Linked DNA regions of Homo sapiens. The protein of the gene in region 1 interacts with the protein of each later gene in a pairwise test. Each region holds a gene or a part of one and is shown in the gene's direction. Other genes may lie near its edges. The genes, in order: CEACAM6, ASPG and CARTPT.

Evidence for each region.
Region 2: the proteins of CEACAM6 (region 1) and ASPG interact in binary tests that used the Homo sapiens proteins (3 or more experiments, as listed by UniProt).
Region 3: the proteins of CEACAM6 (region 1) and CARTPT interact in binary tests that used the Homo sapiens proteins (3 or more experiments, as listed by UniProt).

Annotation. Positions count from the first base shown.
Region 1 is NC_000019.10:41,764,264-41,774,055, forward strand, and holds the end of CEACAM6 (cell adhesion molecule CEACAM6 preproprotein), read left to right. Parts: intron 1-1,919; coding exon 1,920-1,996; 3' UTR 1,997-2,036; intron 2,037-6,538; coding exon of another isoform or gene 6,539-6,555; 3' UTR 6,556-7,948; downstream 7,949-9,792. UniProt on the Homo sapiens protein: Cell surface glycoprotein that plays a role in cell adhesion and tumor progression. Intercellular adhesion occurs in a calcium- and fibronectin-independent manner.
Region 2 is NC_000014.9:104,080,693-104,090,475, forward strand, and holds the start of ASPG (60 kDa lysophospholipase), read left to right. Parts: upstream 1-5,007; 5' UTR 5,008-5,078; coding exon 5,079-5,160; intron 5,161-9,783. Other genes in the region: uncharacterized protein LOC124903408, read left to right, coding at 161-936, 2,168-2,243. UniProt on the Homo sapiens protein: Exhibits lysophospholipase, transacylase, PAF acetylhydrolase and asparaginase activities.
Region 3 is NC_000005.10:71,712,797-71,722,795, forward strand, and holds CARTPT (cocaine- and amphetamine-regulated transcript protein preproprotein), read left to right. Parts: upstream 1-6,478; 5' UTR 6,479-6,497; coding exon 6,498-6,656; intron 6,657-7,083; coding exon 7,084-7,167; intron 7,168-7,711; coding exon 7,712-7,819; 3' UTR 7,820-8,249; downstream 8,250-9,999. UniProt on the Homo sapiens protein: Satiety factor closely associated with the actions of leptin and neuropeptide Y; this anorectic peptide inhibits both normal and starvation-induced feeding and completely blocks the feeding response induced by neuropeptide Y and regulated by leptin in the hypothalamus.

The DNA of each region.
Region 1 (9,792 bases):
TCTGTAGAATTGGTAGCAATGTCATCAATTTTTTTGAGAGTAGGTCTCACTCTGTAACCCAACCCAAGCTGGAGTGCAGTGGCTTGATCATAGCTTACTTGCAGGCTGAACCCCCTGGGCTCAAGTGATCCTCCTACCTCAGCCTCCTGAGTAGCTGGGACTACAGGCATATGCCATCATGCCTGGCTAGTTTAAAAAAAAAAAAATGTGGAGACTGTGTCGCCCTATGTTGCATAGGCTGGTCATGACTTTCTGGCCTCAAGCAACCCTCATCCTCTGACCTACCAGGGTGCTGGAATTAAAGGTGTGAGCCACCATGCCCCCATTTTCATTTCTGATTTTAGTAATCTGAATCTTCTCTTTTTTTCTCAGTCAACCTAGTAAATGATTGTCAATTTTGTTGATCTGTTTTGAAGAACCAACTTTTGGTTTCATTGACTCCCTTTATTGTTTTTATAGCCTCCATTTTATTTATTTCAGTTATAATTCTTATTGTTTCCTTCATTCACTATCTTTGGGTTGATTTTGTTCTTTTTCTATATCCTGAATTTGTAAAGTTAGGTTGTTGATTTGAGGTCTCTCTTTAATGTAAGTATTTACCACTATCAATTTCTTGCACAAGATTCTTAACTTCTCTGAGCCTTCAATTCTTCAACTGAAAATTGCAATAATTCTCATCACTAAGAAATGGGTGGAAAAAATGAAAATTGAAATAACAATGCCTGTTTCATAGTATCGTTTTGAAGATTTAATGTAACATTTGATTAAGCCTTCAGCAAAATGCCACACACAAAGAAAAGCTTCACAAATATTAGCTATTATTATTACTACTGTTACCATTAACCTTAAAGTCAGGTAGTCCTAGAGTCAAATTCTAAATCCACTTGTCACTAACCATGTGACTTTGGATAAGTTTTCTCATCACCCTAAGCCTCTGTCTTTTCATCTGTAAAATGGAAATAATGTCTACCCAAGAGAGTTACTGTATAAATCAAATGAGATACAGGTAAAGTATTTAGCACAGGGCCTGGTATCTAGGACATGCCCCTCAACAGTAGCTAACCTAGCATTAACCATCGCACTGAGATGACTGGTGAGGGCTAAGCACCAAATGGAAACTCACTAGGACATGGTTACTGGCTAAACATGGGAGAGAGGAAAAACAGTGCAAAGAATCAAGCCTGGTATGTTAGCTTTCATCCACTGAGATGCAGCCAAGATGGGATTAGAGGTACAAGATAATTCACTGGGTAAAACAGCCATGAGGGAAGGTGGAGCAGCAGTGACAGGAGAGCCTAAGAGAGCCCTCAGACCACGATGCAGATCTCATTCCTGAGAAGGAGAAAGAGAAGGAGGGAAGTTTTACATAGCAGTGCAGTTCTGAGTTTCCCCAAGACCGATGGGGAGTCCTTGAACCCCTCACCCATGAGAGTGAAGCAGGGTCTCACAGACCTGGGCTTGCTTTCTTTCCCCTGGTGGGAGCCCATGGGAAGTGAGTTCTCTGTGCAAAGAACATAGTAAATTCAGAATGCACTAGCCTGGGCCTTCTGTCCATCAAGTCCCTGCCATAGAGCTCCAACAGGCTCTTATTCATGGCTGCCACAATTGAGACACTGAGAAAAAGATGCAAACATAAAAATATAGAAAGTTCTAATGACATGCAAAAATAGCAATCAGACTTTCTCAAATTTTCAAAGCCTTCAAAAATGTCTGAGTGCAGAAAGAACAGGATGAAATTGACAGAAGACTGATCACCAACCTAGAAACGTGGTAAGAGAGAAAAAAAATTGCAACTTTCCCACAAAACTAGTGTATTCCTTGAAGGAACAAGTCAAGCCTACTTCATGTTGACAGCTAGTTCTTGGGGACCCCACTGTAGAATAACATCACCTTCATTCCTTCTCTCTTCTTCCCACAAGGAAGTGCTCCTGTCCTCTCAGCTGTGGCCACCGTCGGCATCACGATTGGAGTGCTGGCCAGGGTGGCTCTGATATAGCAGCCCTGGTGTATTTTCGATATTTCAGGAAGACTGGCAGGTATGATCGCCTTTCCTCTTGCCATGTTTCCTGCAGGGCTGACCACCATGCTTGGGAAAGGAAAAAAACTTCTTCACCTGTATCTGGGACTGGATCTCCTTCTACCGCTAAACTCCTGCTTCTCAGCACTAATTCCTGCAGGTCTCTTCTTCCCTGGTCTTCATGCTCCCTGTACCCCACTGTCTCCTAGATATAATTATCCCCAGCCTCTGCTCATTTGTTTCCTAGAGTCAATACATTGTCAAAGCCTCTTCGTCCTTTTTCAACATCTCTCACTTTTGTCAGTCTCTCCATTCCCATCAACCTCAATAATTGTTCAACATCCTGCTTGACCCCTTGTTGTAAGGTTGGAATCCTTCTTGCATATGACTGCCTCATTACCTTCCTAAAATCTAGTTCACTCACCTACTTAAGGAGCCAAAGGGGGCCAGGCACAGTGGCTTATGCCTGTAATCCCAGCCCCTTGGGAGGCCGAGGTGGGCGGATCATGAGGTCAGGAGATACAGACCATCCTGGATAACACAGTGAAACCCCGTCTCTAGTAAAAATACAAAAAATTATTCAGGCATGGTGGCGAGCACCTGTAGTCCCAGCTACTCGGGAGGCTGAGGCAGGAGAATGGCGTGAACCTGGGAGGTGGAGCTTGCAGTGAGCCGAGATCGTGCCACTGCACTCCAGCCTGGGCGACAGTGCAAGACTCCGTCTCAAAAAAAAAAAAAAAAAAAAGAAGCCAAAGGAACCTGCTCTGGCCTACTAGTTAAGTTCAAATTTCTTCTCTTTACTAATTCTTCTTACTTTCTTTCCCTCTACTTCCCAGTATAATTCCTCCATCTTAATTAGAATCTGACTCTCTACACATCCCTGCCCCTTTACCCCGGATGCACATAGAATTCTTAGTTTCAATGTTACACCTAAAAACAGGGTGATCTCCCCTCCACTACCTGCCCTGTGGACTTACTCACACCCTTCATCACAAGCAACCTCTTATTTCATGGAGAACACAGACTGTGTAGTATTAATATGTGAACTTTGGACACATCCTGCATGTGGCTGAGAACCTTTTCCTGACAATCAATTCATGTGTTCATAACAGATACAGAAATGAAGAAGGCAAGGTCCCTACCCCCAGGGAACATAAAGCCCAAGACAGGAGATAAGACCTGAAAAATAATCATGATACCAAAGTAGAAAGGAGCGAATGCCACAAAAATTCAGATAAATCTGATGGGAAATATAGCTACACATTGGAATCACTCCGAAACATTTTTAAAAACGGATGCTCAAGCCCCAACCATAAATTCTGATCTACTGATCTGGAGTGGGACCCAGGCATTGGTAATTTTTAAGCCTCTCCAGACGCTACTAATGTGTAGCCACGATGGAGGATCCCTGTTCTAATAGGTAGGACTTGGGGCTAAACCCATGGTTTTTAGCTAGGAGGATTAGAATTACCTCTGGAGCTTTTTCAACATACATGGGCCTATACTTTGTTGGCCTAATTCATTAATGGGCTCCACCAAGAACTCAGTAATCTAACTGAGAAACAGAAACTAAAAGGAAAAGCCGCCTTATTTGATATGTTACATTATATGGGAAGCACTGTCAAATGATAAGTGATGCTAAACCTTCTCTAAGTTATATTTATGGTTATGTTATTGATGTGAGTGTTCCAAAAATTATAAGAGATTCCCAGAAATCTAACAGATTATAAGCCATAATGTCATATGCCACAGAAGTAACTAAATGTCTATGGGAGATGCATTCTTTTTTTATTTTTATTTTTATTTATTTTTATTTTTTTTTATTGATCATTCTTGGGTGTTTCTCGCAGAGGGGGATTTGGCAGGGTCATAGGACAATAGTGGAGGGAAGGTCAGCAGATAAACAAGTGAACAAAGAAACAAGTGAACAAAGGTCTCTGGTTTTCCTAGGCAGAGGACCCTGCGGCCTTCCGCAGTGTTTGTGTCCCTGGGTACTTGAGATTAGGGAGTGGTGATGACTCTTAACGAGCATGCTGCCTTCAAGGATCTGTTTAACAAAGCACATCTTGTACCGCCCTTAATCCATTTAACCCTGAGTGGACACAGCACATGTTTCAGAGAGCACAAGTTTGGGGGTAAGGTCACAGTTCAACAGGATCCCAAGGCAGAAGAATTTTTCTTAGTACAGAACAAAATGAAAAGTCTCCCATGTCTACTTCTTTCTACACAGACACGGCAACCATCCGATTTCTCAATCTTTTCCCCACCTTTCCCCCTTTTCTATTCCACAAAACTGCCATTGTCATCATGGCCCGTTCTCAATGAGCTGTTGGGTACACCTCCCAGACGGGGTGGTGGCCAGGCAGAGGGGCTCCTCACTTCCCAGTAGGGGCGGCCGGGCAGAGGCGCCCCTCACCTCCCAGACGGGGCGGCTGGCCGGGCGGGGGGCTGACCCCCCCACCTCCCTCCCGGACGGGGCGGCTGGCCGGGCAGAGGGGCTCCTCACTTCCCAGTAGGGGCGGCCGGGCAGAGGCGCCCCTCACCTGGGAGATGCATTCTTATCATAATGAACTCTCATCAGATGTTTAACCATACTCATTTTCAATCTTTGTCATTCACTGACAATTGTTTTTTGTTTTGTTTTGTTTGGTGGGGGGGTTGTTTTTTGTTTTTGTTTTTGTTTTGAGATGGAGTTTCACTAGTTGCCCAGGCTGAAGTGCAATGGCGTGATTTCGGCTCACCGCAACCTCTGCCTCCTGGGTTCAAGCGATTCTCCTGCCTCAGCCCCCTGCACAGCTGGGATTACAGGCATGCGTCACCATGCCCGGCTAATTTTGTATTTTTAGTAGAGACGGGGTTTCTCCATGGTGATAAGGCTGGTCTCGAACTCCTGACTTCAGGTGATCCACCCGCCTCAGCCTCCCAAAGTGCTCGGATTACAGGCATGAACCACCGCGCCCAGCCCCGACAATTATTTTGATTCTTCCTTCCTTAAAGCATTTGCAATCAGCTACCATCCAAAATTGCTTCTTCATTGAGGATATTTACAGAAAATACTCCGACATGTACTCTTGAATACAAGTTTCTGATAACATTAAAATCATACCATTAGACTATTTAAGAATTTCCAAAATTTTAACAAACTGATAGCTTCATGAAACTGCCAACCAAGAGCAAGCAGAGAATTCATTTCATGAGACTAAAAGATAATAATGAAAATAATATTTTTATGATTTTTTATTTGAAATTTTGTGGATTCTTTGTTTTGTTTCCCAGATTTCAGGAAACATTTTTTCTTTTAAGCTATCTAGAGCTTCAACAATTTTGCGAACAAAAATTGAAACATCTATATTTTCTCCCTACCTGACTGCTCCAGAATTCGGAAATTATTCATGAATATTTATATGTTTATAATAATATCGTTATTTGCACAAAAAATATAGTTATTAATATTAATTGTTATAAAATAATTATTATTGATAAACAATTATTTGATGATCATTATTTAATAATTTATTAATATTTATTAATAAATTAATAATTATTATTTAACGACTAATTGTAATTGTTAATTAATATTAATATTATATAATAAATATAATAGTATAGTTATTTGCTCAATAAAAATCTGCTCCCTTTATAACAGGATACATTTGAAAACACTGGTTATATTACCCAGGCTTTGATTGGGATGTTATATTTGGGAATATACATAGATGAACCCATAGGCACTGCTGGCAAAGTCTGAAGTCGGCCTTGGTTTGGCTTCCTCATGTCAAGAGGTTTCTAAAAGTTTAATCTGAGATTCCTTATAAAAACTTCCTGTAAAACAAACTTGAAAAGACCCCAGGCTGGGCACAGTAGCTCACGTCGATAATCCCAGCACTTTGGGAGGCCGAGGTGGGTGAATCATGAGATCAGGAGTTCAAGACCAGCCTGGCCAACATGGCAAAACCTCGTCTCTGCTAAAAATACAAAAAAAAAAAAAAAAAAAAAGCTAGGTGTGGTGGCGGGCTCCTGTAATCCCAGTTACTCGGGAGGCTGAGGCAGGAGAATCACTTAAACCTGGGAGGTAGAGGCTGCAGTGAGCTGCGCTCCAGCCTGGGAGTGCATACATAGGCCTATACTATTCATGTGCGTACATGGGCCTATACTATTCATGTGCATACATAGGGCTATACATAGGCCTATACTCCTATTCAAGGAGAATCGCTTGAACTTGGGAGGTGGAGGTTGCAGTGAGCTGCACTCCAACCTGGGCAACAGGGCAAGACTCTGTCTCAAAAGGAAAAAAAAAAGACTATGTGGTCACCTGCTACTCTTGTTGCACTTATATAAAGAATGAGGCCAAGTTCGATGAGACTAAACTTATTTGGAAAACAAATATGTCTTACTGGGATTATCTTTGGTAGAAATAAAGATGCCTATGAAGAGAAAAATTATGTTGAAAAAAACTATAGTACACCTGTTATGACATCACAGCTCTGCTTATTGTTTTTTATTTTCATTATCCACCTATAGATTGGACCAGACCCTGAATTCTTCTAGCTCCTCCAATCCCATTTTATCCCATGGAACCACTAAAAACAAGGTCTGCTCTGCTCCTGAAGCCCTATATGCTGGAGATGGACAACTCAATGAAAATTTAAAGGGAAAACCCTCAGGCCTGAGGTGTGTGCCACTCAGAGACTTCACCTAACTAGAGACAGTCAAACTGCAAACCATGGTGAGAAATTGACGACTTCACACTATGGACAGCTTTTCCCAAGATGTCAAAACAAGACTCCTCATCATGATAAGGCTCTTACCCCCTTTTAATTTGTCCTTGCTTATGCCTGCCTCTTTCGCTTGGCAGGATGATGCTGTCATTAGTATTTCACAAGAAGTAGCTTCAGAGGGTAACTTAACAGAGTGTCAGATCTATCTTGTCAATCCCAACGTTTTACATAAAATAAGAGATCCTTTAGTGCACCCAGTGACTGACATTAGCAGCATCTTTAACACAGCCGTGTGTTCAAATGTACAGTGGTCCTTTTCAGAGTTGGACTTCTAGACTCACCTGTTCTCACTCCCTGTTTTAATTCAACCCAGCCATGCAATGCCAAATAATAGAATTGCTCCCTACCAGCTGAACAGGGAGGAGTCTGTGCAGTTTCTGACACTTGTTGTTGAACATGGCTAAATACAATGGGTATCGCTGAGACTAAGTTGTAGAAATTAACAAATGTGCTGCTTGGTTAAAATGGCTACACTCATCTGACTCATTCTTTATTCTATTTTAGTTGGTTTGTATCTTGCCTAAGGTGCGTAGTCCAACTCTTGGTATTACCCTCCTAATAGTCATACTAGTAGTCATACTCCCTGGTGTAGTGTATTCTCTAAAAGCTTTAAATGTCTGCATGCAGCCAGCCATCAAATAGTGAATGGTCTCTCTTTGGCTGGAATTACAAAACTCAGAGAAATGTGTCATCAGGAGAACATCATAACCCATGAAGGATAAAAGCCCCAAATGGTGGTAACTGATAATAGCACTAATGCTTTAAGATTTGGTCACACTCTCACCTAGGTGAGCGCATTGAGCCAGTGGTGCTAAATGCTACATACTCCAACTGAAATGTTAAGGAAGAAGATAGATCCAATTAAAAAAAATTAAAACCAATTTAAAAAAAAAAAGAACACAGGAGATTCCAGTCTACTTGAGTTAGCATAATACAGAAGTCCCCTCTACTTTAACTTTTACAAAAAAGTAACCTGAACTAATCTGATGTTAACCAATGTATTTATTTCTGTGGTTCTGTTTCCTTGTTCCAATTTGACAAAACCCACTGTTCTTGTATTGTATTGCCCAGGGGGAGCTATCACTGTACTTGTAGAGTGGTGCTGCTTTAATTCATAAATCACAAATAAAAGCCAATTAGCTCTATAACTAAATTTGTTGTAATTCTGTCTCTTGATGTGGGTTCACAGCCAGCCACGGCCAGTGGAGTCTCTCAGGCGGCGTCATTCTCACTCCGACCCTCCTGCCTTCCTCTTTCACTTACAAGGGCCCTTCTGAATACACTGAGCTCGCCCAGATTATCCAGAATAACCTCCCATCTCAAGATCCTTAACTTTACTTATTTGCAAAGTATTTTTGCCAAATAATGTAACATGCACATGTTCCAGGGATTAGGATGTGGACATTTTTAGGAGGTCATTATTCTGCCTAACACAAGTAACTTTCATAAACATCACCCACAACAAAAATTTGCTTTGCCTTCCTTCTGTGTCTCACCTTTCTGCCTGAATCACAGGCCAGAGCACAAACTTCAAGGTGAAACACACCAGCTCTGCTGTGAACTGCCTGGATGATCCTGGACCACTCACTTCACCTCCCACAGTCTCTTCTCATTTGCAGCACAAGGATGACACTTACTGCATCAGAAAATGACAGTGCAAGAGTAAATTAAGATACTAAACACAGAGCGTGGTACCTGATGAGCCCTCGGTAAACATTCCTTTCAGTCTCTTCCTTTCAACATCCTGTTTCTTTCACCCTCACCCATCTGCCCTTTCATCTTCTTTCTCTTCAGCAACTTACACAGTCTACCCTACCAGTTAGCAAAGAAGCCAGCTACCCATTCTCTCTTGATTCTGCTGGAATGTTCTTGTGATAGAGCCTGCTATCTACTCAAGAAAGCCCACATTATTTATATGGAGAGGTCTGTTTAGAACAAGAGGTCCTTTTTATGTTCGCATAAAATGTGTACATATGGCCGGGTGCAATGGCTCACGCCTGTAATCCCAGCACTCTGAGAGGCCGAGGCGGGCAGATCACCTGAGGTCAGGAGGTCGAGAACAGCCTGGTCAACATAGTAAAACCCCGTCTCCACTAAAAATACAAAAATTAGCTGGGCGTAGTGGTGGGTGCCTGTAATCCCAGCTACTCGGGAGGCTGAGACAGGAGAATTGCTTGAGCCCAGGAGGCAGAGGTTGCAGTGAGCCAAGATCACGCCACTGCACTCAAGCCTGGGCAACAAAGAGTGAAATTCTGTCTCAAAAAAAAAAAAAAATTTATACCTATGTCCCCTTAACTTACACATACCCATCCCAATTCTGCCCTGTTAATTTATATGTGCACTTCCTTATTCATTCTTCTTTAGTCTTTCTCTTTATACCTTATAATCTAGGATAGCACAGAGACAAAACTAATGACCCAGGCCACAAGAGGGGATTTTTTTTTTAGCAAGACGAATGCTTTCCATTAAAAAAAATCAATGCTTTTTTTTTGGCAAAAGGAATGCTAATTTGCAAGGCACCCCTGAAGCCTGTTTTTAGGCTTGGCTTTTGGAAAAACCATTTGAGCCTACAACACACTCTTAGACGCTCCCCAAACAGGAGACGATAATTACCACAGAAGCCACATTCACTCCACGTATTCCTGCTGTTGGATAAATGTATTTTCACAGAATGTTGAGCATGAGTTACTCCTCCCCAGTCCTTCCACTCCTGGAAGTTAAACTTCCTTCTTAACCATCTTCATCTCCAGGTGGACTGCCAGGACTCTGGCTGGAAAATACCGCCCACGCTGGATGGCCAGGGTGGCACCTTTGCCTATTCCCATAATTATAATAGCTCACACTAATGCAGCACTCACTATGCACCAGGCACTATCCTAAGAGCTTTCCAGCTAGCTACAGTCCTCACAAAACATCCTGAGTGCCACCATCCCCATTTTTACAGATTTTTAAAACTGAGGCAGAGAAGTGAAGTAGTGTAACCATTGTCACCCAACC
Region 2 (9,783 bases), on another chromosome or scaffold:
AGGCCGGGCCAGCCTGCTTCAACACAGTGTCAGGAACTCCTGTGGTGTCCACAAGCCCAGTGCCAGCGCTTGCCTGCCGTGGGACGCACTGTGTGCCTCAGGCCCCTCACTCGCCAAATAGGACAGTTATCCTCTGCCTCGGTGTGGTCACAGGGGTGAAATGTGCCTGGATTTGCAGGGTGGCTGCAACAGCGCCTGGCCCATAGGCAGTACCATGAAGACTCACAGTGTAGGGCAACAGACGACGCCTGAGCGGCTGAAGAAGGTGGGCTCCCAGGGCCTCCCTGCCCAGGCCTGCTGCCACGGCCAGAACCCAGGGGGGCACCGTGTACCTCGCCAGTGGCCTCAGCACTGCGCCTTGCCTCCAGGAGTCTTGGCTTGTTTGTGTGGAGCTGGGGACTGGGAGAGCAGAGCTTGTGACCTGAGGCCCCCCAGCCTCAGGGTGGAGGTGACCACCCTGGACCAAGGCCTGCCCCAGTTAGTGGCTGAGGACAGACAGGAGTACGTGTGGCATTCCTGCGGCCCCTTGCTCGGCACCCAGGCACTTCCTCCTGCCCCTCTGCCTCTGGAAGGCCAGCCATGGCATGGCCACGGGGGCCTGCCACCTGGCACCTCCCCAACACAATACATAAATGAGTGGGTGTGGCTGTTCCAAGAAAACTGTGTTTACACACACAGGTGCGCCAGGCCTGGCCGTCGAGCCCTGGTTTGCCGGCCTTTGTTCGAGACCAGTGGTTCCCAAATGTGCACCTGTATCAGCATCACCCAGAGCGGGGTCAGAGTCTGGACTCCTGGGCCCCACGCGGAGTTGTTGTCAGGGGCCTGGGCTTTGCATTTCCACAGGTTCCAGGTGCTGCTGCTGGAGCGGAGGCCACGCTCTGAGCACCCTGCTCTAGAAGAAGAGATGCAGAAAAGACAGGCAGGGCTGCAGAAAAGGTAGGCAGGGCTGTAGGGTGGTCCGGACCACCGGGCACTGTCAAATGGCAGATGTCCCTCCGCTCTGCTCTGGGTGGGGCTGGGGCCGGAGTGGATTTTATAAACACTCTGGGAGGGTCCCACCCAGAACTCTCCTGCGCTGTGTGGAAGGAGGGCCACTGGGGAGGGTGTAGATGGGAAGTGAGAGAGAAGAGGGGACGAGGAGACCCCTGGGTGGCCAAGGAAACACTTTTCTGAACAATCAAAAATAAAGGAGGGGCAGGCAGAACGTGGGGACTTGGCTGGGGCTGCCTAGGTTCCCTGGACTCACCTCCTGGCACTACACTGCCTGGGGAGCCAGGGGGCCAGGAGCCAGGGAGCGACTGGCACACCCCACACCTTCCTAACCCAGCCCCTGGTGGGGAGCCCTTCCTTCAGCAGCAGGCAGCACAGCGATGGCCAAGTGTCCCTCCAGGGGGACAGACGTTTGCCCCTCCACGCCACTCACCCGGGGTGAGGCCGCAGCACCCTCCACCTTGCTCCACCGTGGCCAGCTTCTGGCCTCCCCTCACCAAGCCCCGGGACTTCACGTGAAGATCACTTACTGGCCTTCTCCCCTCGCGGTCCTGGGTTCTCTCCTCCTCCTGGCCTCTGAGGCCAGAATGCTGAGGCTCAGACTAGGGCCTTTGTCTCTGCTGACACCTCGCTGCTGTCACGACTTTGTGGTCCCTGTGCCACTGACTGCAGGACGCGCAGCTGAGTCTCCTTGGACCTGCCCAGGTGGCCCCCAAGCAGGATGTGTCCAACACACCTTGCTTCCCTCTGCCTGGCCCCAGGCCCCACTCTGGCCCCTGCTTTCTCAGTAAGGACATCCCCACTCCGTGGCTGCTCTGGCCAAAGACAGGAGAGTCACCCTTTCTCTTCGGCGCGTACCCCTCAAGCTCCAGCTTGTGCTCCCAGCACTCCCACCTTGCACTTCCCCATCCCCAGCTCCTCCCCACCCTGCCCAAAGCCCTCCTGAACCCATTCTTGTCTCAGTCTCCGCACATAGCAGCCAGAGATTAAAACAAACCAGCCCAACCCTCGGTGGGGCTGGTGTTCACCTTTGGGGTTAAATTGAAAGTCCTTGCGTGGCACCACAGTCACTCAGCGGGCATCCCCTCCCTCTGAGTGCTCTCGCCCCACTGACCTGGGCACTGTGGGGCCATGCTCACTCCTGCCTCGGGCCTCAGCACCTGTCCCTTCCTGGCAGCCTGTCCCGCCTGGCATGCTGGCTTTGCTCCAATGCCAACCCTTCGGAGAGGCCTTCCCTGGCCACCCTGTTGTAAACAGCACTGCCTGTCTCCGTGTTCCCTGAGTGTTCCTCCAGGCACTGTCACTGCCAGACGCTGGTATTTTTGTCTACTATGGCCCCCACCCTGGCTGGTACACTCAGAAGGACGGGCTGCGTCCCCTGTGCCTAGAGAGGCATCTGGCACAGAGCCAGCCTTCAACATATATTGCATGAAAGATTCCGTCCAAGGACGCTGTAGATGTAGGTGGACGCAGACAAAAGCAAAGCAGGACAGTGGATTCGTCCAAAGACCGGCAGTGTCTTCAGGTGAAGCTGCAGCGTCGAGTCCTGGTGCTTGCAAGGTTTCAGCAGCAGAAACCTGATGGGGCTCCTTGCACCTGGGAGAAAAGCCACTCCAGTGAGGATTATTGCCAGTGAAGGCTGCCCTGGCCCCAGACAAGTTTTCCTAGAATTTATGGTAGCAGGCGGGTTGTTAAAGGATGATTCCCGAAAGGGCCAGACATGGTGCTCACAGGGATGCAGGGTGAGCATGCGTCGAAGAGCTTCCCTAGCCCAGGCAGCTGTGAGGACCAGCTCAGAAGAGAAGTCCTGAAACAGACACTTACAGATGAGGAATATTGACATGATTGTGCAAATGGACCTGAAACTGGATTTTCAGGGGGCTGTGATGGGCTGGATTGTCTCCCTTAGATTCTAATGTTCAAGTCCCCCACACCCCAGTGTCTTAGAATGCAACTGTATTTGGAGGTAGACTTTAAAGAGATGGTTGAATTAAAATGAGGCCCCAAATTCAATCTGACTGGTATGTCTATAAAAAGAGAAAGTCTGGACATCTGGAGATACATCAGGGATGCGTGACTGCTCAGAGGAAAGACCCTGTGAGGCACAGCAAGAAGGCACCATCTGCTTGCCCAGGAGACACCAACCTGTGACACCCTGACCTTAGACTTCCACCCCCAAGAACTGTGAGAGGTAGACCTCCTTGCACTGTAAATCACTCGTTCTGTTACTGCAGTCCCAGAAAACTAACACAGACCTTTGCTGGGCAGAATGCCTTTGCTTCTCTGCAGACAAGATTACTTTTGCACTATTGCACTGTTGTTATCAAAATAATTATATGGGGCTGGGCATGGCGGCTCACACCTGTAATCCCAACACTTAGGGAGGCTGAGGTGGGTGGAGTACCTGAGGTCAGGAGTTCAAGACCAGCCTGGCCAACATGGTGAAACCCCGTCTCTACTAAAAATACAAAAAAAAAAAAAGAAAAAAAAATTAGCCTGGTGTGGTGTGCACCTGCAATCCCAGCTATTCGGGGAGGGGGCTGAGACAAGACAATTGCTTGAACCTGGGAGGCACAGGTTGCAGTGAGCCAAGATCTTGCTACTGCCCTCCAGGCAACAGAATAATAATAATTTTTATTATGGAATCAGTGTCAAATGCTGGTGCCTTCTGGGGGCAACACACAGTTTCCCACCAAAGTGCATCAGTGCCCCAGGCAGTCAAGGTGCCAGGAGACGAGGAGGCCGCGGATCTTCTGTCCACCTGGGAGCAAGCCTGCAGCTTGGGACCCTCCTGGGACCCTGCACCCGCCAGTGCCCTGCCCTCCTGGGCTCTCATGGGAGTGAAGGAGGGTGGGCTCTGTAGGAGTTAAAGAAAGAGGAAAGAAACATGAAAAGCGGCTCAACAAAGGCAGGTTTATTTTGGAGAATAAACCTGAAAGGGACTTCTGGCCGATTTTGGTCAGGAGCCATCTCTCCTACAGACTAAGGATCTTTAAGGGTTTAGGAAGTGGGGAGCTTATCGCAGGCTCGGAATGTTTCTATGTGAGGGAAAGTTTATTGCGGGCTTGGAATGTCTCTGGTCGGAGGGGAGGTTATCTCGAGGTTGGCATGTTTCTGATTGGAGATGTTATTTGTGGTTTACGGTCGTGCTGACATTAGCTATTGGGCTGATGTGTTTTGGGCTGGATTTAGGCAGCTTTTTAATCAAAGGGAACCTAAAATGGCGGTGTTTGTCCAAGAAGGCCATACTCCTGCTCTGTCCCGCTCCAGCCCTTGGGGGCCCCTCGGGCTCTTCTCTTGGATGGTGTGTGAATGGGCACATGTGGAGGGGCTGGTCCAGCTCTGCCTGCCTCTGGCCATCCAAAGGAGGGACAGCAGGGCCTGGGCAGCAATGCCGGCCTTGGAGCCCCGGGGCTGTGGAGGCTGCTTGACAGGACACGGAGCCCCCTCTGTGCTCAGGTCGTGGAGGGCCTCGGGCACTACGGTCTGCCAGGCACCACATGTCACAGCTACTCAAACACCCAGGGCCGCCACGGAGGGCCAATGGCCGCAGGATGGCTCAGGACCCGCCCCACCCCTGTCGCTGCCTTTCTGGCTGCCCCCTAGTCCCTGGACAGGCGCTCCCCAGCCCCAAGCAGGCCCCAGCCAATCTCCTGCCCAGGCAGGAGCTCCCCCTGCCGCCCTCACAGACCTCACCTCTTCCTACACGTTTCCAAGGCCGCGCCCCGCCCCGCACCCCGCCAGGCCCCGCCCCGCACCCCGCCAGGCCCCGCCCCGCACCCCGCCAGGCCCCGCCCCGCACCCCGCCAGGCCCCGCCCCCACCCCGCCAGGCCCCGCCTCTCTCTCCGACCCTGGACAGTCCCCGGGACCCACCCCGCCCCCAGGTCCTGCCCCCGCCCGCCTCCGCGGGGCCTCCCACCCTCCCGGGCAGACTCCACTCCCGCCCCCTCCCCGTGGGTGCCCCCGCCGGCCCCGCCCTCCCAGGCTGCCCCCGGCGCCCCGGGCCTCCTCCGCGCAGTCCCTGAGTCCCGCAGGCCCTGCGTCCCCGCTGCACACCCCCGTCCACTCCCGTGGTCCCCGGTCCGGCATGGCGCGCGCGGTGGGGCCCGAGCGGAGGCTGCTGGCCGTCTACACCGGCGGCACCATTGGCATGCGGAGTGAGCTCGGCGGTGAGTCCGAGACCCTGGGCGGGGTAGGCCTCTGGACCTGGCCGCGACCGGGAGCCTCGGACCCTCCTGCACCCACGGGGGTCGTTGGGGAGTCAAATCCGCGCCTGGATGGGGGGTGCGGGCTGAGGTCGCTCTCCTCCGGTTCCGGCCACCGGCGTCCCCACGCATGGAGCCCCGACCTGGACAGAGGAGATTGCGGTGGGTTCTCGCCGTCGCGGTGCTCCCGGGAGCGCCCTGCGACCCTGGGGCCAGGCCCCCTGTGCTGCCGCTGCGCCCCTGAGGGCCAGCGTCCTGAAGTCCTGGAATATGGGGCGGGAGGGCCCCAGGGCATTGGCCTGCCGCTCCTGCTCTGGACACAGAAGGCTTAGGAGGCTGCCCTGGAGAAGGCTTAGGAGGCTGCGAGGACCCCTCAACTGCGACACCCAGGAGGGTGTCCCCGTCCCCTGGGGTCCTGGTCAGGCAGCAGTGGTTGGCACGATACTGGGGCTACCTGGCATCTGCGGGGACGCACGTGTTCACACCCGAGGTGGCCTCAGAGCCCTGCTTCCTCTGCCCCTGTGTGGACCTGGTTGACCAGAGACCAGCGATTGCGTCTGGACTGAGTTCTGCCTGGGTGGGGTCAGGGCCTGGGACAGGCACCGAGCTCTGTGGTACTCCAGCACAGTGCTGCCAGCCTGGGCTGGGCACAGGAAGGATGGTAGCTTGGGGAGCCTGAGGCCACCGGGATGGGGAGAGGACGGTTGCACTGGAGCCTCCAGAATGCCTGGGTGTTCCCCAGGAGGGCAGGACACTGCCTGGGGCCCCCAGATGGGCTCTGCTGTGATGTGGGGCCTCCCTTGGGGCCAGGACAGCCCCCTCGCCCCGTCTTGAACCTGTTTGCGACCCTCCATGGGCCACTGCCTGCCTTTCCCTCAGGAGCCCTTTCCACTCCTCCTCCTCCCACTCCCTGCTGCCCTGGCCCCTCCCCACACTCCTGCTTGTGTCCAGCGCAGCTCTCTCTCCTGGGACGGCTGGGACCCTCTCCGGCTCTGCCAGAGCCCAGGGCCTCCCCTGGCATGACCAGAACATTCTCTTGTCCCTTGCCCATCTGCCAACCACTTCCCCGCCCCTCCTATCCCCACCCCCTCTCACGGCCTGTTCCCTGGCAGCTGCCCCTCCTGGCCACCCCTTTCTGCTGAAGTGGCTGCTCAGAAGCCACCAGCACTCTGTCGGTGCTCTCAGATTCCACCCACCACACTGTGGCCGGTGCAGACCCCTCTGGAGGCCCACTCTGCGCCCAGCCCAGGAGACAAAGCCTAGTGGGGCTCGTCCACGAGGGACTCAGGTCCCCAAGAACGTGGCTGTCCAGGCTGCCGGGAGCCTCCTCTGCACTTCTCCTTCTGCCTGTGAATGGAACAAAGTCATTCACAGCTTGGCAAACGCCCCTGTGTGACACTCCACTGACACAGAGTGACACAATTCCTGTGCTTGGCCCTCACAAGCTAGAGAGAGAGGCTGCCATTGAAGGGATGGCATGCATTAAGGAGCTAGTCCCAGGGGCAGGATCTGCCAGGGCCCTGTAGGGGCTGTGGGCTGATAACAGGGTCTGAGCTGGGTGTGTGGATGGTGTGGAGTTTGGAGGCAGCCCAGGGAGGGCTTCTCTGAGGACACAAGGCCTGCAGGACAAAGATGGGAGAGGGCCAGGCCAGGAGCAGCCCTGCAAGGTGCAGGAAAGAGGAGTGGGGAGCCCAGCAGGGCCGGAGCCTGCCAGAGCTGCCCCCGAGTGGGGACAGGACCTGGGGACTCTGTGTGGGGCCTCGTCCGACGCCCCTGACGCTACCCCTTCAGGCTTGGAGTGTGGCCAACTGCAGTTTCGTTGAGCTCAACATGTAGTTCTTGAGTGGTCCGAGCTGCAGGGGCAGGTGGACTCTGTAACCCCACCACACACCCGTCTCGCTTGGCCCCCGCGTGCTCGCCGCAGCAGCCTGTGGGTGCACTCACACGCGTGCACCGCATTTCTGAAAGAGGCTGTGAGGTCCTGTGTCTGGGTGGGAAACAAGAGACTTGGAGGCTGGAAATTGGGTGTGGGGCGTCAGTCTTCAGACCTGAAGCAGCCTTCTGAGATCCCTTGGTGCTCTGTGCACTGGGGTCCTGGCTTCTGCTCAGCAGCCCGTCCTCGTGTGGCTGCGAGGTCACCCCCAGCTGTTGCTAGCTGACCCATGTGGGGCATCCACTTCCAGGAACCTGCAGGAATGGGCTCCCCCAACCCCTCGTGAGGTTGGAGCAGCCAGACTGTCAGGCGTCAATGATTTACTCCCTCCACACTGCTGACGTGGGCTCTGGCCTTCCCTGGGGAGGTGAGAGGGGAGTGGTGGCTTTGCCCTAGTAAAGCTGTTTGATTGTCGCTGTTGGAACGGCTTCTGCGCCTGCTGGTAAACAGTGACCTGTGGGTGGAACGCTGCACACCTGGAGCCCTGCCAGAGTTCAGGGAGGGCAGAGGTGATGCCAGTGGGGACGCCCCTTGACCCATCCCTTCTCTGAGTTCATTGAAGCTATCACAGGTCAAGGGGCATAGCGAATCCAAACACGGCTGATAACCCCAAGCCCAAGCTGGCATCAGTGGCCACGTTCTGTACACCCGAGAAACTTGAAGACTTCCTATGTCAAACTGGGAACCCCACCTGCTTGCCGGCCTGTCCCAAAGTCCCTCCTGAGCCCGGCTCCTTGCAGGCACAGCAGGGAGGGCAGAGATCTGGGGCCAGGCAGCTGAGAGAAGCTCCCTGCCCGGTGACCACACGGGTCCCAGCAGTCGAGAGTGTCAGTGGAGTGATGCCCATGGCTTCTTGGTTACTGCAGTGGCGTCTGTGCCCTTGGCCTGGACCTCCTTCCTGAATGGGTGCTACACGTTCACAAGTTTCTAAGCCTAAGCTTGACTTCGCTGGTGACAGTGGGGCCCATTGTCTTAGAGAGCAAAGCCTCCTTTCCAGGTGTTTGGCAGGGGGCTGAGGAGTTTCCAAGTCACCAGCAAACTCAGGCACCTGCCTGGATGGGCCAAGGAAGAGGTTCCAGGCAGGGCTGGAGGGTTCAGATTCTGCAGCCCTTGAAGCTTTTGGAGGGCCCTCATTGAGAAAAGTAATACAAGTTACAAAATCATAGTTAGGTGTGAAAGCCGGTGTTTGTTTATTTTTTATTTATTTTTATTTTTTTGAGATGGAGTCTCACTCTGTCGCCCAGACTGGAGTGCAGTGGCGCGATCTCAGCTCACTGCAAGCTCTGCCTCCCGGGTTCACACCATTCTCCTGCCTCAGCCTCCCGAGTAGCTGGGACTACAGGCGCCCGCCACCGTGCCCGGCTGAAAGCTGGTGTTTATTTAAAATAACAAAAGAAATTGCCCCAGCTGACTGGGCGCGGTGGCTCACACCTGTAATCCCAGCACTTTGGGAGGCTGAGGTGGGTGGATCACTTGAGATCGGGAGTTCAAGACCAGCCATGGACAACATGGTGAAACCCTGTCTCTACTAAAAATACAAAAAAAAAATTAGCCAGATGTGGTGGCAGATGCCTGTGGTCCCAGCTACTGGGGAGGCTGAGGCATGAGAATCGCTTGAACCCAGGAGGTGGAGGTTGCAGTGAGCCGAGATCTCGCCACTGCACTCCAGCCTGAGTGACAGAGTGAGACCCTGTCTCAAACAAACAAAAAAAACTGATGCCACTACATACCTGTTAGAATGGCTGCTGACGTACAACACATTGACTGCGGGGTGAGTGCTGGAGCCCCAGAGTTGGAAAGTGGTCCACTCGCAGGTTGGTAAGAAAACTTTACTGGCGACAGTATAGGTTTGAAAAAGGAACGTTTGGCCAGACATGGTGGCTCAGGCCTGTAATTCCAACACTTTGGGAGGCCAAGGCGGGTGGTTCACTTGCCTTGCTAACATGGCGAAACCCCGTCTCTACTAAAAATAAAAAATTAGCTAGGTGTGGTGGTGCATGCCTGTAATCCCGGCTACTCGGGAGGCTAAGGCAGGAGAATTGCTTGAGCCGGGTGGGTGGAGGTTGCAGTGAGTCGAGATGGCATCACTGTACTCCAGCCTGGGCAACAGAGTGAGACTCTGCCTCAAAAAAAAAAAAAAAAAAAAAAAAAAAGGAAGAAAGGAGAAGAAAAAGAAAAAAGAAAGAAATTGGCCAGGCTGGTTTTGAACTCCTGGGCTCAAATGATCTTCCTGCATCAGCCTCCCAAAATTCTGGGATTACAGGTGTGAGCCATAAAAACCACTGCAAAAGCACATATGGAGTGTTTTGCTTGAGAGAAGAGGACACCAAGAGAGTTTAGTCTTGTCTTTGGCTGATTTCGCCTGTGGTGCCCACACATGCCCCCAGCAGGGACAGCAGGGCCCATATCCACGCCTACCACTCTGCAGCATTCCTGGAAGTTTCTGGAAGCTGTTCCCCCACATGAGTCAGCAGCAGCTGGAGGTGACCTTGCACAACGTGAGCATGTCCCACAAAACCAAACCAGATATGCCCCCTCCACCTTTCCCATAAGGCACCCCAGCTTCACCCGCCGTGATGAGTGGAGAGTGACTTTTTGTTTCCTGTGGCCACTGTGCCGGGCGGCTGAACATCACAGAAGTTCGTTCTGGGTTC
Region 3 (9,999 bases), on another chromosome or scaffold:
GCCACATTTTCTTTATCCAGCCTATCATTGATGGGCATTTGGGTTGGTTCCAAGTCTTTGCTATTGTGAATAGTGCTGCAATAAACACACGTGTGCATGTGTCTTTACAGTAGAATAATACTTTGGGTATATACCCAGTAATGGAATTGCTGGGTCAAATGGTATTTCTGGTTCTAGATCCTTGAGGAATTGCCACACTGTCTTCCATAATGGTTGAACTAATTTACATAAAGCTCCATCTTAGCAGACTGCACTTAAACAGTCACCTTTTGTCCTTAATGAAGTGGCCATATTGAGGGAACTCAGGTGGTAAAGAATGAAGGGTGGCTTCTAAAAACTATGAGTTGCCTCTTTAAAACCTGAGGGTGGCCTGCAGCCAACAGCTAGCAAGAGGTGGGGGCCTTTAATCATACATCCACAAGGAAATAAATTCTGCCGATAGGAAGCATGAGGTTTTTAGATGTTCAAGGTATGGTAAAGACATTCGAGGACTAGGAAAGGGCATGAACAAAGGCAGACACATGTGTAGTCATTAGTGTTGTTCCATAATGTTTGCATTCTAGGTACTTGTTAACACTGTAATTCTTAGTCCTTTTGACTTTGGTGGAGCTGTGTGATTACTTCAGGCTAATGAGTTGGAAGGAAAAGTGAAGTATCACTTATGAGTCAAAGCTTTTAGTTGTTCATTAAAGACTGTCCAGAACTCTTTTTTCCATTTGGAACAAAATTAGCCACTTTAGAGATGGTGGATGATCTGTCAGTCTGGGTCCCTGAGTGACGATGAATAGAACAAACTCTTTTTTCCATTTGGAACAAAATTAGCCACTTTAGAGATGGTAGATGGTCTGTCAGTCTGGATCCCTGAGTGACGATGAATAGAACACTCCATCAATTCTTGATGCACATGGGACACGAGTGAGAAATATAACTGCATATTTTTTAAGTCACCAAGATTTGGGAGTTGTTTGTTGTAGCAGCATAACCTAGTAAATTCGGTGCAAAATTAAGAAATAAGGCTGATGTACCTACAAAGTAAAATATATCTGATGGAACTGGTTGGGAGCAGAGAAAAATGAGATTAGAAATATGGCCAGAGCCATATTATAAGAAACTTCAACACCATGCTGAGAAGTTGACTTGAACCTATAGACAATGAACAATCACTGAATGATTCAAAATTGCTCCCTATTAAGTCATATAGTTAATTTCTTGGGTATTCTAATCAGCTGCTTTAGTGCTAGTTTTACACTTTCTGTAAGCTTAGGAGATCTGGATCTGGAAAAGTTAGAGGAGAAGATGGTGTTAGCGGTGGCATGTAAAGTGTGGTTTTGGCATGCCACCCCTGCCGCACTCCAACAAGGTGTGCTGTGCTGGGATCCAGATAAATGTTTCCTTGTCCTAGGAAACAATCTATCTCTTGGTCAGTGCTATCTCCCTATATCTGAAAAGGACCACTTTTCTCAGGCTAGACCTTTAGGTTAAAAGCTTGTTTTTAGTATTTGAAAAATGAAATCTTTTGGGTTCATCTGTGCTCCTACCACCTGTTTATTGGATCCAAATTTGGAACTATCTATTGCCACTCTGGATTTTCTTTTTGTGCTCCAAAGTTCCTTTTCAGGCTTGTTTCCCATTATGCTTCCCCGTCTCTCACATTCCCATGCACCCTGCTCTCCAGCAACCCAGAGCACTCAGTGCTCCCCAGATCTCCTACCTTGATGACTTGACTTTGCTGCCTGCCCGCCCCCAAGGTCCCAGAGTGGGATGTTTGCTATTGTTGGAATTCTACCCATCCCCTAGGACTCAGTAGCTCATTCAAAGGATGCCCCTTTTTCACGAAGATTCCCTCTTGTGGCAATGAATCTCTGACTTCTCTGGGCTCCTCTTTCTCTAGTAGGACCCTCATCTCACTAAGTCATTGTATTTTAGGAGTTTGTGGACGTGGGCACAAATGACTAGACCCAAAGATCCTCAAGGCAAGAAGTGTCTGGATTATCTCAGCAGTCCTCAAAATACTTAGCAGAGTTGTGAGCATATAGGGCACCCAGATTTTAAAATTAAGTCTTGAAATGGAAAGCTTTTCAATTGGAAGCTTAAAAAATTGACTGAAAAGCTTTGTTTAATTTCGCCTGCTTTGCTCCTTCAGAAGCAGTCTGTAAAGCACATGTTCTTTGCTACTGCATCTCCACCCCTCCCAATTTAGAACCGACTCCAAGTGTCCTTTACTTACAGATTATTTTCTTTCAGATAGTGATAAAGATGTTTAGTTAGAACACAGTGAATAGCAGTTCCTTTGGAAGGCTATGGCTTGGAAGTAAACAGAACATAAATGTCAATGGGAATTAATCTCTCTTCTGCAGGGAGGAAGAGTGGAGAGCAAACAATGTAGAAATGAAAAAAAGTCACCCAAGAGATTGCATATGTGTACCAAAGAGAACAGAGTGATGTTTAACTTGGAGGAAAGTGCAACTAACACAAATAAGGAGAAACAGTCTTAAATATGAATATTTAGGAAGTCAATAAAACTGAGGACTTACCAAAATTTAAATTGAAATTTTAAATTTTTATTTTATTTTTGTCACAGGGGCTCACTTTGTCACCCAAGCTGGAGTGCAGTGGTGGTGTGATCATGGCTCATTGCAACCTCAACTTCTTGAGCCCAATTAATCCTCCTACCTCAGCCTCCTGAGTAGCTGGGACTACAGGCATGTGCCACCACTTCTGACTAATTTTTTTTTTCTTTTCTTTTTTTTTTTCTTTTGTAGATATGTGGTTTCACCATGTTGACCAGACTGTTTTTTTGTTTTGTTTTGTTTTGTTTTGTTTTTGAGACAGAGCCTCGCTTTGTCACCTAGGCTGGAGTGTAGTGGTGTGATCTCAGCTCACTGCAATCTCTGCCCTGCTGGGTTCAAGTAATTCTCCTGCCTCAGCCTCCCAAGTAGCTGGGATTACAGGTGCATGCCACCACACCTGGCTAATTTGTGTATTTTTAGTAGAGATGGGGTTTTGCCATGTTGGCCAGGCTGATCTCAAACTCCTGACCTCAGGTGATCCACCTGCCTTGGCCTCCCAAAGTGCTGGGATTACGGGCGTGAGCCATTGTGCCCAGCCAGACCAGACTGGTCTTGAACTTTTGAGCTCAAATAATCCTCTTGCCTCGGCCTTCCAAAGTGTTAGGATTACAGGTGTAAGCCACTGCACCTCGCTGAAATTGAGGATGTTTTACTGTTGAACAAGACTTGGTTGGGGTGAGGGATGGGAGAGGAGGGTTAATGGTTAACAAAGTAGTCTGATATTTGGGAAATACGACAACCTAAGAGGCCAGTGTTATTCTGAGTTACATAGGAACAGAAATTATTCACAACTGAAGGAGAAAGGAAGGGAGAGAGAAATACTAAAGCTTAGGAAAAAACATCACTGTGGTGTTAAATTCTGCCATGACCTTCTCATTACTTAAAATCTTAGGGCTCTAGGGTTCTAATTTAGTAATATTGAACACATATGTTTTAAGGGGTGTGTGTGTGTGTTTTCTTTTTTCCAAGAACAATACAGACATCGTTTTCTTGCCAAGTCACAAATCAATTGATGGGTTATTTTTATAGTGAAAAGTTCAGGACTCCAAGAGTTAGGCATGAGTAAGAAGAGGTTTTTAAAATGTTCTCAGATAGCAGTATGTTGTAAGTAGATCTTGCTGGCACTGGTTTCTTGGCTGTCTGCTTATGAGATTTCTTTACTTGAGCTATTTCAAAGAGCAGGACTGGAGGCCTACTCTATCTCAGAAAAGATGATTAAGAGAGATTTGTTCACATTAAATCTCCAAAGACCCATCCTGGCCATTGCTTCTCTTTCATGAGGTGACCTGCCTCCCTTTTCTATATCTGGGGTGAGAAGTAGTAGTTAAATTCCATATGATTTTAATTGCTTGGGGCATCAGTGATGGGCTTTTTTCCCCTAATGGAGTCATTACAAAGTAGTAAGAATATACAAATTCTCCTAACAGGGCATAATATGAAGACTGTGGAATGTCTCATGCTTTTGTTTCTTTTTGAGTTTTAACTTACATAAAAGTTGTCTTTGGGAAGAAGATAGCCTAGAATTTACTATACCATGCTAGCTAAAGACAGTTTATAAAGTCATTCTGTTCAAGATGAAGAAAAGCCTGTGGTATGTAAGTGACAAAGATGCCCCTGGCTTGTTTCACAGGATTTTCCAAGAGTCCTTTCCCTAACCCCTTAACTAAATGTGCCTTCCTTATAAGAAAATGATAGCACCAACTCAAGTTCAGCAAGATTTAAACTTTGGATTTTTTTCCAATAGAAGTAGCACAAAGGGAAAGTTATTACTTGTGTCTGGGTAGAACAAAATTGGAGAGAAAGTATTGCATTGACAATATCTACATCCTTCAGGAAGAATAGGCTAAAATCTTATTTGAGATTATTTTTCTTCTGAAGCTTAGAATAGTTTAAAGATCACTGGAGATGGTTTTTGCAGTGAGTGTCAATATGTCTCTGTAAGGTTTTAACAGTAAAACGTGCTGCCACTGAAGTTTTCTTGTGCAGAATCAAAAGGTATGTGTGGAAGGCAGAGCTGAGGGAGGTGTTAGATACATTTTCAAGTTGGGTTTACCCCACAGCAAAATATTTTGATGCTGTTAATATGTGTGCTATTCATTAGAAGAGATATCACTTCTTGAATTGCTTCCCAGTGAGTATTTGAGTACCAATTAAATACTTGATAGTTGAAGTAACCAGGCATATATTGTGTATTAAACTATCTTAATGACCCACATAATCTGCTATGCAATAAATTTGTGGGAGAAAAGTATTGATAGATGGTTTGGATTGAGTAGTCATAGATATTTACACTGAGATTTAAATAACAGAAGTAGTGAGCCTTTTGGAAATACAGGAAGACCTTTCAAGGAGGGGTAAGTGCAAAGACATCAAAGTATGAATGAGATTGGCCTGCTAGAGGACCAGAAAGAAGGCCATGTGAGGTTGGAGTGGAGGAGTCTGGGGCAGAGTGGTAGAACATGAGGTGGAGAGGGGTGAAGATCATATAATGCTTTGCAAGTCAGGATGAGGAATCTAGATTCAGTGCTTAGTAAGATTAGGAGTCATTAGTGTATTTTAAGGGGAAAAATACTCTGGTTGGTGGTGAACTATGGAGTAGAGGAAGGCAAGAGAAGATAGGGTGGGGATTAAGTGGTAGACATTAAGTTGACTGGGGCAGCTGTCTAGGACTGGGTTGTAGTAATGGGGATGGAGAAGAGTGGATGAATTTAGGAACAGTTGAGGGAAAGATGGTGTGGTGAAGGAAGCCAGGTGAGCAAGCAGGTCTAAGCGGGAAAGCATTGCTTTTCCTACAGGAATTTTCCTGTGCATTCAGGCTGTAAGGATCTCAACTTTTAAAAAAGCCACATTGTTCTCCCAAGTTGTTGGGGAGCTGGTTCACCATTGACTTCTGATCTCTGGAGATATTTTCATAATCATGGAGCTGTCTTTCTTTTCACTCTTTTACTCTCTTTCTAGACAGGCTTCTTGGATACCAAGGGTTGGTGGTGGGTGGGGGGAGGTTCTGGGGATGGTTAAATTTGCCTGGGCAGCCTCAAAGTTCAAAAAGGAGGGACAGGGAAGCTTAGCTAAGAACCAGGAGTTTGACATACTTAATCTCTCATTTCATCCTACTGATGACTTTGTGAGGTATATCTTTTTAATCCTAGATCTACAAAAGAGAAAGCTGAGGCTTGGAGAGGTTCTTCATTTTGTTCAAAGTCATACAACTTTTACGTGGTGTAGCCAGGATGGGAACCAGAGCCTGGCTCTCTGCACTTCCAACACCACTGCTGAATCCGGGTTTGTCTGTTTTCCCTCTCTTCTTTTAACTATTGTCACACAGATTCCATCATAGAACCCATCACGTGGAGGGCCACTATTTCTCTTTCTTTTGTATAGTATGTTTGCTTCCCCTACCCCACAGAGTAAGGTGCTCAGCAAATGTGGCTGTCTGGAGGCAACACCCCCTTCTCACCGCCACACTTGGGGTTGGGGTGCGAGGCAAGGCAGGGCTGGCGAGGTGGATGTTGCAGCTGTCACCACTGCTAGGTGTTGGGAAACGACTCTCCTGCCTGTGCATTGACCCGAAGGCATTTTCCATTTCCTAGGCCCCTCCCGCTTCCCGTCCCTCACCTCTAGCCCCTCGGCTTCAGCTCAGGCCCCTCGGGGAGCATCCCTTGCCGTGAGACTGACAGCCTTTGGGGGCGCAGGGTCCTGTTCTCTGCGCTCTAGCCCATCTGTGCGCAGAGCCTCGTTCCCAGGCGCCTGGAACCCGGCGGGCATTGACGTCAAGCGCCGGCGGAGCGCTGCCTACAGACGGTTGACCCGGGCCCTCCTCCACACCCCCTTCCTTCTTCGCCTCCTCCCTCTTTCCTGCACGGGGGCTCGGGCTCACTATAAAAGGTGGGAGCGCGTGGTGCCCCAGCAACGACGAGTTTCAGAACGATGGAGAGCTCCCGCGTGAGGCTGCTGCCCCTCCTGGGCGCCGCCCTGCTGCTGATGCTACCTCTGTTGGGTACCCGTGCCCAGGAGGACGCCGAGCTCCAGCCCCGAGCCCTGGACATCTACTCTGCCGTGGATGATGCCTCCCACGAGAAGGAGCTGGTCGGTATTCCCCTCGCTCTCGACCCCCTTGAGCTGTCGCCTTGTCTCTTCTCTTGCACGCCTCCCTCCTCCCCCCACCCCCACTCCTATTCCCAGAGTCAGGGCGCGGGGAGCTGAGCGCAACGCCCAGGCACCCACTGCCATCCGAAGAGCGTCTCGAGCTCACGGGCTCCTGGCAGTCTGTTGAGCGAATCCCTCATCCCGGCCCCTCTGAGCAACAGGGACCCCAGCGGCTCAGAGACCCGCGGTCAGTACCTGGGACAGCGTCCGCTAAGTTTCCACCCCTCGACCATTCCCTGTGTCCGCGGAGTCCCACCGCAGAGTGCGTGTGGGTCCGGGGCTCCTTATAACTAGGGCTGGAAGTGCGCACCTGGGCTGGGCTCGCAGCCAAGGCGGCAACTTCAGGCTCCGAAGCGGTGTGTTGCAGATCGAAGCGCTGCAAGAAGTCTTGAAGAAGCTCAAGAGTAAACGTGTTCCCATCTATGAGAAGAAGTATGGCCAAGTCCCCATGGTAAGGTTTGTGGTCACTCCCTTCCCGTGTTTTTCCAAGAGAAAGTACACCGCCTTGAATCGTACACACAGTCTTCTCCGTAGGATGTGGCTAAATAACTTAGGTAATGGGCTTGCAGGATTCTGTGGGCTCCTTCTTCCTTCCCGGGTGAGGAAATGGGAAAGCAGGAACAGGGGTTGTAAGAAAGTGTAAGTCTATTGTTTGTTGCTCAGGAAAAAGGTCTGATTTTTTTCCCCTCTGAGAGGGCAAGAAAAGGAGCCAGGAAATGTGATGCTCCCCTTCCCACGCCCCCCAACCCTCGCCACTTAAAGGTGGAAGAAACTAGGATAAAACTAATAATGTAAGTTTCTTTAAAAAATGTACTCTCACTGAGGTTATAAGCACAAGGCTCCCTGTTTCAGATCTGACTGTACGTAGACCTCTTGTGATGGTGATGGGGTCCAATTGCCCCTTTCAAGAGACAGAAATTGCGTTGACTGTGAGACTTGCCTGTTGGGAACCTGGGTTTGTTCATACTCGATGACCACACATTTTGTTGTTTCAGTGTGACGCCGGTGAGCAGTGTGCAGTGAGGAAAGGGGCAAGGATCGGGAAGCTGTGTGACTGTCCCCGAGGAACCTCCTGCAATTCCTTCCTCCTGAAGTGCTTATGAAGGGGCGTCCATTCTCCTCCATACATCCCCATCCCTCTACTTTCCCCAGAGGACCACACCTTCCTCCCTGGAGTTTGGCTTAAGCAACAGATAAAGTTTTTATTTTCCTCTGAAGGGAAAGGGCTCTTTTCCTGCTGTTTCAAAAATAAAAGAACACATTAGATGTTACTGTGTGAAGAATAATGCCTTGTATGGTGTTGATACGTGTGTGAAGTATTCTTATTTTATTTGTCTGACAAACTCTTGTGTACCTTTGTGTAAAGAAGGGAAGCTTTGTTTGAAAATTGTATTTTTGTATGTGGCATGGCAGAATGAAAATTAGATCTAGCTAATCTCGGTAGATGTCATTACAACCTGGAAAATAAATCACCCTAAGTGACACAAATTGAAGCATGTACAAATTATACATAATAAAGTGTTTTTAATAATTGCCCATAGTGCACTGCTGTTTTCATATAAGTAATTTAAGTGGAAATGGTGAGATTAATCATGCTGTTGTTTTCAAAGAAAAATATTTTAAAAATAGCAGCCTATTGGGAAAATGGCACCTTAGCTCCAAGGAGTTTTGATCGTTAATTAGAAGTTTGCCAAGCCAGTTTTAGTATACTCTATTTTTCTTTGATTGCAGCGATGTGGTGTGTGTATGTGTGTGTGTATGTGTGTGTGTGTGTGTGTGTGAGAGAGAGAGAGAGAAAGAGAGAGATGAATGAGATGGAGATGGTTGGAGTTGAGGTTATATAATTTTGTTTATTAAAACCTTTAGCCAGACCCTTTACTTTAAACAGTGAGACCAATAAACTATAAACAGTTTCATGTTTTAGTCACATTAAAAGCAATTTGAAAAATTAGAAATTTTGTTTTGACAACTCCCTTATTAGAAAATATACATTGATTTAAAGATATGGGCTGTTTAGGGTTGTTATTTGTCTAAAGACTCCAAGGTTATAAGACCCATTCATTCCCACAAGTAAATTCACACTCTTGGAAAAAATTCTCTATTCCAGGAGAAAGAGTCATTTCAGAAAATAGTTTTGAGGGGAACAAATAAAAATTGGAGGAGGTGAGAATTCAACTCAAGAAATTAAAACATATTAAATGTAAAGTTAAGTAGCTTTTAAATATTTCTGAGTGCTTATTTGAGGTCACATTTCCAAGGGTTTAAACCAGACTAAGTAACATCTAAGTAGCAGCATCATGAGAGAAATAAATGTTAACAGCTTCCTAATCCAAACTCAAGAGGCACTTGCATAATAGCAGAATTGAAAAATAAAGCCCCTCCACGGATTCATAGGGAGTTTTCTGATAGAAAATATTCTTATACACAGTTACCATTTTCAGTGTGATTATTATTATTAGCATGCCTAATCTTGCAAGATAGATATTATTACTATTTTTCAGAGTAGAAAACAGAGGGCAAGAGAATTATGGAATTTGCTTACACCATATAATCCTAAATAATAATTTTAGCTGTAATCCCTTTGACTCCAAAGATTTGTCCTTTTTCTCCATGTCACTTAGGCAATCAACAGACTGGGCTTTGAATTCCCCAGAAAGCACATCTTTCCTTAATAAAAATTGCTCACTGGGGGCCAAGGTGTATTTTTTGGGGCTGTGTTTCCGTTTGAATTCCCCTACACAAGCCTATATGTGATTAGAATGTGGTATTTTTGTTTGTTTCTTTTCTTTTCTTTTCTTTTTTTTTTTTTTTTTGAGACAGGGTCTCACTCTGTCACCCAGGCTGAAGTGCAGTGGCACAATTACGGCTCACTGCAGCTTCGATCTCCCAGGCTCAAGTGATCCTCCCACCTCAGGCTTCTAAGTAGCTTGGACCACAAGCATGCACCACCATGCCTGGCTAACTTTTGTATTTTTAGTAGAGACGGAGCTTCGCCATGTTGTCCAGGCTGATCTCAAACTCCTGGGCTTAAGCGATCTGCCCACCTTGGCCTCCCAAAGTGCTGGGATTACAGGCGCGACACACGTCGCCCAGGCAGAATGGGATATGTTTTAATTTTTAATAAGTGCAAGTAGTTATTTAATAGTTTCACAGTCTGCTACTTTTCCAGAAATCATTTCAGTTAGAATATTCTTGAGCCCCTTAACTATTCCTATCTATCACTCCTAAATAAGTCAGATCAGGAAATTGCTTTAGTGAACAGGCAGTACCGTCAGGGCTAACA